Linked DNA regions of Homo sapiens. The protein of the gene in region 2 purifies or fractionates together with the protein of the main gene of each other region. This does not show direct contact. Each region holds a gene or a part of one and is shown on either strand. Other genes may lie near its edges.

Region 1 (3,500 bases), on a different chromosome or scaffold from region 2:
GCTGTTATTAAACAAAACATCCCATTTCTACTTACTTTAATCAGAAGGAGGATGAAGCTGCTGCTAACATTTCGATAACATATCTGATTCTATCAAGTGAAACTACACTGAATTTAATGGGAGTACTGGCTGACAGATCAAACTTAAGTTCTAGACAGTCTTGTCTAAAATAATAGAGGTTTAAATATCCATCTCTCCCAGGAAATTGTAATAATTCTATATGCCAAATTCATTTTCTTATGGACTGTATGTTTGTAAAGGACTATTATCACTCCAATTCTTTCATCAATTTACTTTGCCCCATTCCATAAAATATTAATAGTTAAAAGCCTTAAAAAACCTGTTAGCTGACAGTAACTACTATGAATGAAGAGCTTCAACTGCTAAATACCCTAATCCTCCAGGAAAATCACTTCAAAAATGGACATTTGGGGACAGAATCACTCATTTATCTCAAAACCAGAACAAATAGAAAACAACACCATTAAGGGAATTTAAGTATTTTTCTGACCACTATTGCAGAAACACAGAAAAACTGAGCAGATTGTAGACATGCAAGATCAGCAGTATATAGAAAGGATTAACAAATCAAACTCAGTACATCTCTAATAACTGGATTGAGAGTAGACTCTTAATAAAACCAAATTATTTCTTCCTCAAGGCAACCGTTAGCTACAAAAGAAAAATGATTTCATATCCTTGGTCCATAAAGAAGACACATTTATTTACATTCTCAATGGACTAAAAGAGGCTTTAAACTTCCACAATTAAAATTGTATGCTTCCAAAAATATCATATGATCAATGCACTTAACTTAAAGCTTCAGGTATTAATAACTTCATTTAGACTTCTTAAAAAACCAACACAAACATACTTTCTAGAGTGCAAAATGCTTCTTATTAAATACTTCAGGGACACAAAAGCAATTTGTTTTTAAACAGAGGCATCCTTTTCTGAAGGATCATCACCACAAAGACATCCATTGCCGGCAATGGACGTGAACAGAACTGCCAGCTCGAATAAGATGCAACGTTAGGACTCTGCCTTCAGTTTCTTTGCCTTTCCCGATGACCCCAGTTATTTGTACAAACTCATTGTTGGACTCTGGTACATGCACATATATGCATCACAAAGCAGTCTTCGTGCACAGCCTTGGATTCTCCTGGAGTCCAAGGAATGCAGGTCTTCCAGAGACATCTTCAAGTACTCTCCTACTTCTGGGCATGGGGTGACTTGAGGAATGTTGAAGCCATTCTGACCACCTATGGCACAGAGGAAGAACTCTTTATAGGGCAGTCAAGTTCTAAACCCTTTTGCCAGTGATTTTATAATCCTATCATTTCCAAAAAGCTAATTTCAGGCTCTAAAAGCCTTTATTTTACTTCTGATTTCTGGAAGTGAAAGCCTCCTTTAACCCTTGACATATTCTCATTTCTTGGTTTCTGAAAGGATTCTGGGGCCAACAGTGAATAAACCTGGTAAAAGGACACGAATTCTGAGGTAAGCCCCCAACCTACTTTCCAGACTTCTCTCTGAATCATATTATCAATACATATGTAGACGACACTCTGTTCCTCACATTTCATTTCCTCCCAGACACAAGCCACCCAGCACACTTCACCATAAGACTGTCCAATTTGGAATAGATCTAGTCAAATGAACGCTATTATAGCTCCCTACACTTTAAACACATCCTTACGCAACTCTAATACAGTTTGTTTGACACATCACCAGGCCCTGATGAAGGTGCTCTGGGGTGTGATTTCAGAGATTCCAGGAAAGGCTCCTCTGGGTTACCTCAGTGGCTTTTCCAAACCTATGCTGTTGTGTTACGCTGTTTAGTGCAAATGTTAACTGGGTTGGGGGCACATCTACAGATGGGGCTGGGATGTATCCCTCAAGCATCAGAGAACTGAGAAAAGGTGGAGAACTCTTGATCTAGGGCCTGGGCCTCTGTTCAAGAGGCTGCCACAGGGAATGTCTTAGGCTACTGGAGGGCCACACCAGAAGGCCGTGGGGGCTGGATCTGAGAGAGCAGCTAAAGGAAAAATAGGGTATAAGAATGGAGGAACATGAGAGTCACACCTCACAACCTTGCCCAGGCCTGGTCTTAACCTGCAAACTCCTTATAGGTAGAGGCAGGGCTGCTTTAACAAACATTTCTTACCTACAACCCACTATCCTGCCTGGCATTCATTAAGCATTAGTTAAATAATGATTAAGCATCCTAGAAAGTGGCCTGGCAACTGCAGCCTATTCCCCACTTCAGGGAGAAAGATACTACATGCAGAAGAGGCTTTACTTTTCTGAAAAGGATGTTTACTTCTGCTCTCAGCTTTTGGCAATTGGAAGATAACATGGTTTAGTACAAAAAAACATATGCACTGAGATCAGAAAGACTGAGTTAAACACAAACTACAATACCTCAAGCCCCTTAAACCTCAGCTTTAATAACAGAAAAACAGGAATAATCCCCATCTTGCCAGGATTTAGGTAGAATGACTTAATGGTGCTCAATAAACAGCTACCGTGGCTCCTACAAAAATGAGAGGGGCCTGAAAGAAGACAGCGAAGCTGGAAATAAGATCCCTCAGGGCTGAAATAAGAATTTTAGGATTCTTTTTTTTAAAAAAAGAGCATATGCATGTCAAAATATCACAATATGAGGCTGGGTGCACTGGCTCCTCTTGTAATCCCAGCACATCGAGAGGAAAAGGAGGGTTAATCACTTGAGGCCAGGAATTTGAGACCAGCTTGGGCAACATGGCAGAAGCCCATCTCTACTAAAAATACAAAAATTAGCCAGGCATGGTGGCATATGCGTGTAGTCCCAGCTACTCAGGAGGCTGAGGTGGGAGGATTGCTTGAACCTGAGAGGTGGAGGTTGCAATGAGCCAAGATCACGCTGCTGCACTCCAGCCTGGGTGACAGAGTGAGACTCCATCTCAAAAAAGGAAAAAAAAAAACACAGCATATTATTCCTTAGTTCAGCTAGCAAGGTTGTTAATGCAATCCAAGATATAAGACTGTTGTCACCAGAATAATCCTGAAAGGATTTTCTCAGAAAATATCACTCAGAACAGGCGATCCCACTACAAACTGTCCCACTACAAACCAGAACCCTGTGCCACATGCAGAAGAAAGGCGTTTTCAGTACCATCCCGATCGGCCATGCTGTCAAAGAAGAGCCAGGCAGAATCGTCCTTCCCATACTTCACAAAAGCAACATAGTGGCTTGTTTCTATGCAGAGAACAGCAAATAACTCCATATTCTGGCAAGGGATGCAGCCGTGTCTCCAGTCCCAGTCGGGTAAGTCTTTGGGAAGTGACACTGGGTTATATTTATGATTCAGCCTCTTCGGATGAAGGTGGACCTAAAATGGACCATGAAAAGAATGTCATTAGGCCGAGGCTGGTGGATCACGAGGTCAGGAGTTCAAGACCAGCCTGATCAAGATGGTGAAACCCTGTCTCTGTTAAAAATACAAAAATTAGCTGGG
Region 2 (5,688 bases):
CCTCCATAGTCAAGGGTCAAGGGGATTGGAGATTAGAGAAGTAGGCAGAGTCTTTTCACTTGCCAAGTGCTGGTGGGCTCCCTCTGGGCTGCCACATGTCTCCTGTCATGGCTGGCTTTTTTGTGGGGGAACATTGGTGGTTCTTTAGAGCTGCCTCCCCGCAACTGTTATACCACCCTCAGGGACCTTACAAGGACCTTTCCCTGATGCTCTGTCCAGCTGGCCTCGGCAGCCGTCACCTCCTCCTGCCCTGAGCCTTCTCCACTGGCAGATAGCCTGCCCACTTCTGTAGGGTCCTGCATGGGGCATTTGGCTGCCTTCTGAGCTGTCCTGCTGGTCCCCCACGAAATCCAGCATCCTCGTCCTGCCAGAGTTGCCCTGCTGCCTGTTCTTCCCCCGCAGCCTTTCTAGCAGCTGCAGCCAGGTGAGGGGCAAGCCCTCTACAAGCTCCTGGAACTCCCTGTGCTCTGGTCCAGAAACAGTATGGGGTGGGCTCGTGAGCTTGAGCAGCTCTGCAGTGCTTCACTGGGCCGTGCAATGCCATTTTTCTTTCTTGTAAGTGCTCCATTCTTCAGGAGGGGTCCTCTCCTATACCCTCATGGAAGGGAAGGGGAGATGCTGCAGAGCTCTCCTCTCATTTATTTATTCATTCATTTATTTATTTATTGAGATGGAGTTTTGCTCTTGTCGCCCAGGCTGGAGTGCAATGGTGTGATCTCGGCTCACTGCAACCTTCACCTCCCGGGTTCAAGCGATTTTCCTGCCTCAGTCTCCTGAGTAGCTGGGATTACATGCACACGCCACCATGCCCAGCTAATTTTTTGTATTTTTAATAGAGACAGGGTTTCGCCATGTTGGCCGGGCTGGTCTCAAACTCCTGACCTCAGGTGATCCACCTGCCTCGGCCTCCCAAAATGCTAGGATTACAGGCATGAGCCAACACACCTGGCCTCTCTTTTAACTTCCATCGGAAACCTCTCCTCCCAAGCTTGCTTTGAAATGGGCTGTGACATTTGGTCACTGCGTAGCAAGTCCTGTGAGAATGAGCCGAGTGCCTGACTTTAGAAAGTGAGTACTTTCTAAAGTGTGTGTCACCTATTGTCCTAGTTTTAAGTAAACAGGAAGAGTCTCATCCTGTGTTCTTCATAAGGTTCATAGTGCAGGGCCTGGCACATAGTAAACACCCAGCGAGTATTGGCCACTATCATTATTTACCTTCTTTGGGCTGTAGTTTTCTCATCTGGAAAGTGGAGTTTATGGTGGGTTCTGCTCTGCTTGCCGCTTAGGGCTGTTAATTTGCATGAAAGTATCATAAGTCCATTTCATTTTTATACATTAGCCACAGCAGAACGGGATCTCTCCGCGCATGTTTAAGGCCTTTGTAAGCAAGAGCCACCCGGAATTCTCCTCTAACAGGCAGCAAGATGCCCAGGAATTCTTCTTGCACCTGGTGAATCTAGTAGAGGTGAGTAGTCAGTCTTCACGGATGCTCAGCGGGGTTGTAAGAGGGTGCCGAGCCACTCAGTGCAGTCTGCTGTGGCTTGATCAGAATGCCTCCCCACTCTCTTTCTTCAATCTCTCCTGTTAAAGCTGGTTCAGAATCAGATCCCTGGAAACTCTCTGCTCAGCCAACTTGATGTGACTGCTCTTCACACTCCAGTTTCCAGACACTTGTGGATCTCTGTGCTTCTTTTAACCTGTATGTGTTATAGGAGTGCTTGCCAGTTATTCCATTCACAATTTATTTTTTTCTGGTCTTTGTGACAAAGTTCCTTAAGAGCCCTGCGTGGTATTTGGTGTCCTCCTGCCACTGCTCAAAGATGATGAGTCTGCTTACATCAGAATCGAATGCCATTAAAAACTTTTTTTTTTTTTTTGAGACTGAGTCTAGCTCTGTTGCCCAGGCTAGAGTGCAGTGGCACAATCTTGGCTCACTGCAACCTCTGCCTCCTGGGTTCAAGCAATTCTACTGCCTCAGCCTCCTGAGTAGCTGGGATTATAGGAGCCTGCCACCACGCCCGGCTAATTTTTGTATTTTTAGTAGAGATGGGGTTTCACCATGTTGGTCAGGCTGGTTTTGAACTCCTGACCTTGTGATCCACCCGCCTCGGCCTCCCAAAGTGCTGGGATTACAGGTGTGAGCTGGAAAGCCACTGAGAATTCCTGAGTAAAGCCTTTTTTTTTTTTCCTGGTTACAACAGTGTTCTTTGTGGAAAATATAGAAAACACAAAGGAGAACATCAAAATCCCCCTTAATGCCACGCCCTGCAGCCAGCCAGTGTTTTTTGTTTGTTTGTTTGTTTGTTTGTTTTTGTTTGTTTGTTTTTGACAGAGTCTTGCTCTTGTCGCCCAGGCTGGAGTGCAGTGGCACGATCTTGGCCCACTGCAACCTCCGCCTTGCAGGTTCAAGTGATTCTTCTGTTGTTTGTTTCCTTGTTAGAACTAGGCTGCAGTGGTTTCTCTTGTCTGCCTCAGGGTTACTGATTCACATGTCTGCTCAGGTCCATGATCTTTTCTAACTCTGTTTATCATTTATTAGTGATAACTTTTTTTTTTTAGAATAAAGCCTCCCGAGTAGCTGGGATTATAGGCACCCACTACCATGCCTGGCTAATTTTTTTGTATTTTTAGTAGAGACGGGGTTTCACCATGTTGGCCAGGCTGGTCTCGAACTCCTGACCTCAGATGATCCACCCGCCTCCGCCTCCCAAAGTGCTGGGATTACAGGCATGAGCCACTGTGCCCGGCCAACAGCCAGTGTTCACAGGTTGGCATCTGCCCCTCCCATCACTTTCCAGGTCTTATGTTAATTCTCTACATGCTCTTCTGTAAGCAGTGTTTTCACTTAAATGTTTGCCACATCATCACATCTGTTAACAGAGCATAATTTCTGTTTTATTTGTACCTAATTTACATGAGTGTATTTATATAATCATATTGTACATGTTTTTATGTTTCCAGGGCAGCCCTTTATTTTTTTCCCTTTCTCTTTTGATTGGCTTCTCCTCCTCCTTTCTTCTCATTCCATGAATTTCTCTCCCATGGTTTTTAATTTAATAATATTGAAATAGTAATCCATGATGAACTATATTTTATTTTACCAATCCCCATTTTTGGACTTTAGATAAATTCCAGTGTTTTTCTATTAAAGTGCTTTGGTGAATGGGCATGGCCAGAGGAAATGTTTAATAAAGCCAAGTGTTTACACCGGGTTTAGAGTTCATTTTCTACTAAGTCTTAGTGGCTCAATATTCATACATTTACTAACCTGATACAATCCATCCTTCAGAGGAACCGCATCGGCTCAGAAAACCCAAGCGATGTTTTTCGTTTTTTGGTGGAAGAACGCATTCAGTGCTGTCAGACCCGGAAAGTCCGCTACACGGAGAGGGTGGATTACCTGATGCAGTTACCTGTGGCCATGGAGGCGGCAACCAACAAGGGTAACAATTCCAAAGCGGGAAATTGGTACTGTGTGTCTTCATATGGGAAAACCCTCAAATCAGAGAGAATGGTTTAGTCACTGAAGTGTGTCAGGAGTAGACCCAGCCCAGGTGATGTCTGCTTTGCACATCTCTTTTCATCTCTTTGTTAGTTCCCATGTGACTTTTCCTTTGAGAAGAATCAAATGCATCACAGGTTTTATGGAGGCGTTATGGTTGGAACCTACGTCACTGCCTATAAATTTGGCCAACTACTGAATATGGAGTCAGCATAATTTTGGGGAAAATTATTGGTAATGATGTATGTAGAAAATTCTTTAACACTGTCATTTATAAGTTGTGCTATAAAGTCTGAGGGAAATGATCAGGACTGCATTTTTTAAAGTTAGACATTCGAGCAGAGGTCTCTTGAAATAATCCAGCTTTGGCACATGAGTATTTGAGCCACCTCTTCTGGGAGATAAATTGTGTCAGGGTTCTTTGTAGAAGCAAAGCCCATTAGAAGGGTCTCTGGGCTTTGGAAGAGAGAAGGAGGCAGAGATGTGGCACTCATGTTTGGTGCCTTCTCCTTCCATCAGTCTAAGCTGGTTCTTCCTAGGCAGAATAGACAAATGGCATTTCTTCGAATTAACATCGTAGAAGCAAAAAAGACAAAATAGCTGCTGGATTGTGCATCTCCTGTGAACTAGTCATTTTTGTAAAGTTCAGCAATTCCACTATGCAGCCATGAAAAGGAATGAGATCATGTCCTTTGCACATGGATGAAGCTGGAAGCCCTCATCCTCAGCAAACTAACACAGGAACAGAAACCAAACACCGCATATTCTCACTCATAAGTGCGAGTTGAACATTGAGAACATATGGACACAGGGAGGGGAACATCACACACTGAGGCCTGTTGGTGGGTGGGGGGAAAGGGGAGAGAACTTAGAGGACAGGTCAGTAGGTGCAGCAAACCGCCACGGCACACATATACTTATGTAACAGACCTGCACGTTCTACACATGTATCCTGGAGTTTTTTTGTTTTTTGTTTTTTTTTTTGAGAATAAAGAAAAAAAAATTCAGCGGTTCCCTGGATGGCCCTTTTTGCTCTTTCTTGTGTGTGGGGGGTGGTGGGTCAGTTTATGATGTTAGTTGGAAAGTGATGATTATGATGATTTAAGATGAAACGATTTTCATTTTCTATATGCTCATGCAGTTTTTGATCAGTTTCAAAATCCTTTTGGTGTAGAAACAAGGGAATGGGAGTCTGCTGTTTGTTTCCTTGTTAGAACTAGGCTGCAGTGGTTTCTCTTGTCCGCCTCAGGGTTACTGACTCACGTGTCTGCTCATGTCCATGATCTTTTTTTAACTCTGTTTATCATTTATTAGTGATAACTACTTTTTTTTTTCAGAAAGGAGATTTATAATTTAGTCTCTGGAATTTGACTGTTGGGAACACCTAATGTTAGCAACCTAGATATAAGTACATCATAAACTGATTGGGGACAGGGGAATGAATTTTAAACCATCTAAGATGTGTTTAGGAAAACACATATGTGCGTAAGTGTACCTACAAACTGATAAATAAGGAGTTTTTTTTTTTTTTTTTTTGAGTAATACAAAAGAAATGACCAGAAAGGCCATTCAAATTGACATAAAATTTTGACTACAGGCTAGTTTCCAGGACCAGATCTGCTGGTGCTTGGGAGGTTCCTCTTTTTCCCTTAGTATTTAATCATTTGAGTAGGAATAGCACAGAGGCCTTCTGGGTTGGTAGCCCTGATGTCTGAGGTGTTGGGTAACCTCCACAGGAAGTTGTCTCGGCAGTGTTGGTTACTGTCATGGGTTGTTTGATGGTGGCTAACTGCAGTCCTGTAGTTATCCTCCTCCTTGGCCTCACAGGGACCCATGTGGGACCCATGACCTCTAATCATAGTTGCTGGTGGAACCAAATCAGAAAATGTGTAACACTCGATCTGGCTCTTGCCAGGCGCTTAGTGGTGGTTCTGTTTTTTTTTTTGTTTTGTTTTGTTTTTTTCTGCCTTTGGTTATTTTATTTTAAAACAGCTTAAAGTTAACAAGAATGTTTTTGTTACTTTTGTGTATGTGTGTGTGATCATTGGCAAAAATTGATCCCCTTACACAATGTAACATCTCTTTCTGGCCTTATCTGTTGGGTTGTGGAGGGAGTGCTGATCAGAGTTTTAAGTCCAGCTTTGCCAATAATTGGCTGGTTTTGACTTTGGGCCTCAGTTCTTCAG

The links. Proteins that work in one complex are often made in the same cells at the same time.
Region 1: the proteins of USP13 (region 2) and CYLD purify together in Homo sapiens (affinity purification with mass spectrometry; one large-scale study listed by BioGRID and IntAct). This does not show direct contact.

The regions. Positions count from the first base shown.
Region 1 is NC_000016.10:50,794,086-50,797,585, reverse strand, and holds part of CYLD (ubiquitin carboxyl-terminal hydrolase CYLD), read right to left. Parts: intron 3,375-3,500; coding exon 3,158-3,374; intron 1,263-3,157; coding exon 1,078-1,262; 3' UTR 1-1,077. UniProt on the Homo sapiens protein: Deubiquitinase that specifically cleaves 'Lys-63'- and linear 'Met-1'-linked polyubiquitin chains and is involved in NF-kappa-B activation and TNF-alpha-induced necroptosis.
Region 2 is NC_000003.12:179,738,908-179,744,595, forward strand, and holds part of USP13 (ubiquitin carboxyl-terminal hydrolase 13), read left to right. Parts: intron 1-1,339; coding exon 1,340-1,465; intron 1,466-3,289; coding exon 3,290-3,443; intron 3,444-5,688. UniProt on the Homo sapiens protein: Deubiquitinase that mediates deubiquitination of target proteins such as BECN1, MITF, SKP2 and USP10 and is involved in various processes such as autophagy, endoplasmic reticulum-associated degradation (ERAD), cell cycle progression or DNA damage response.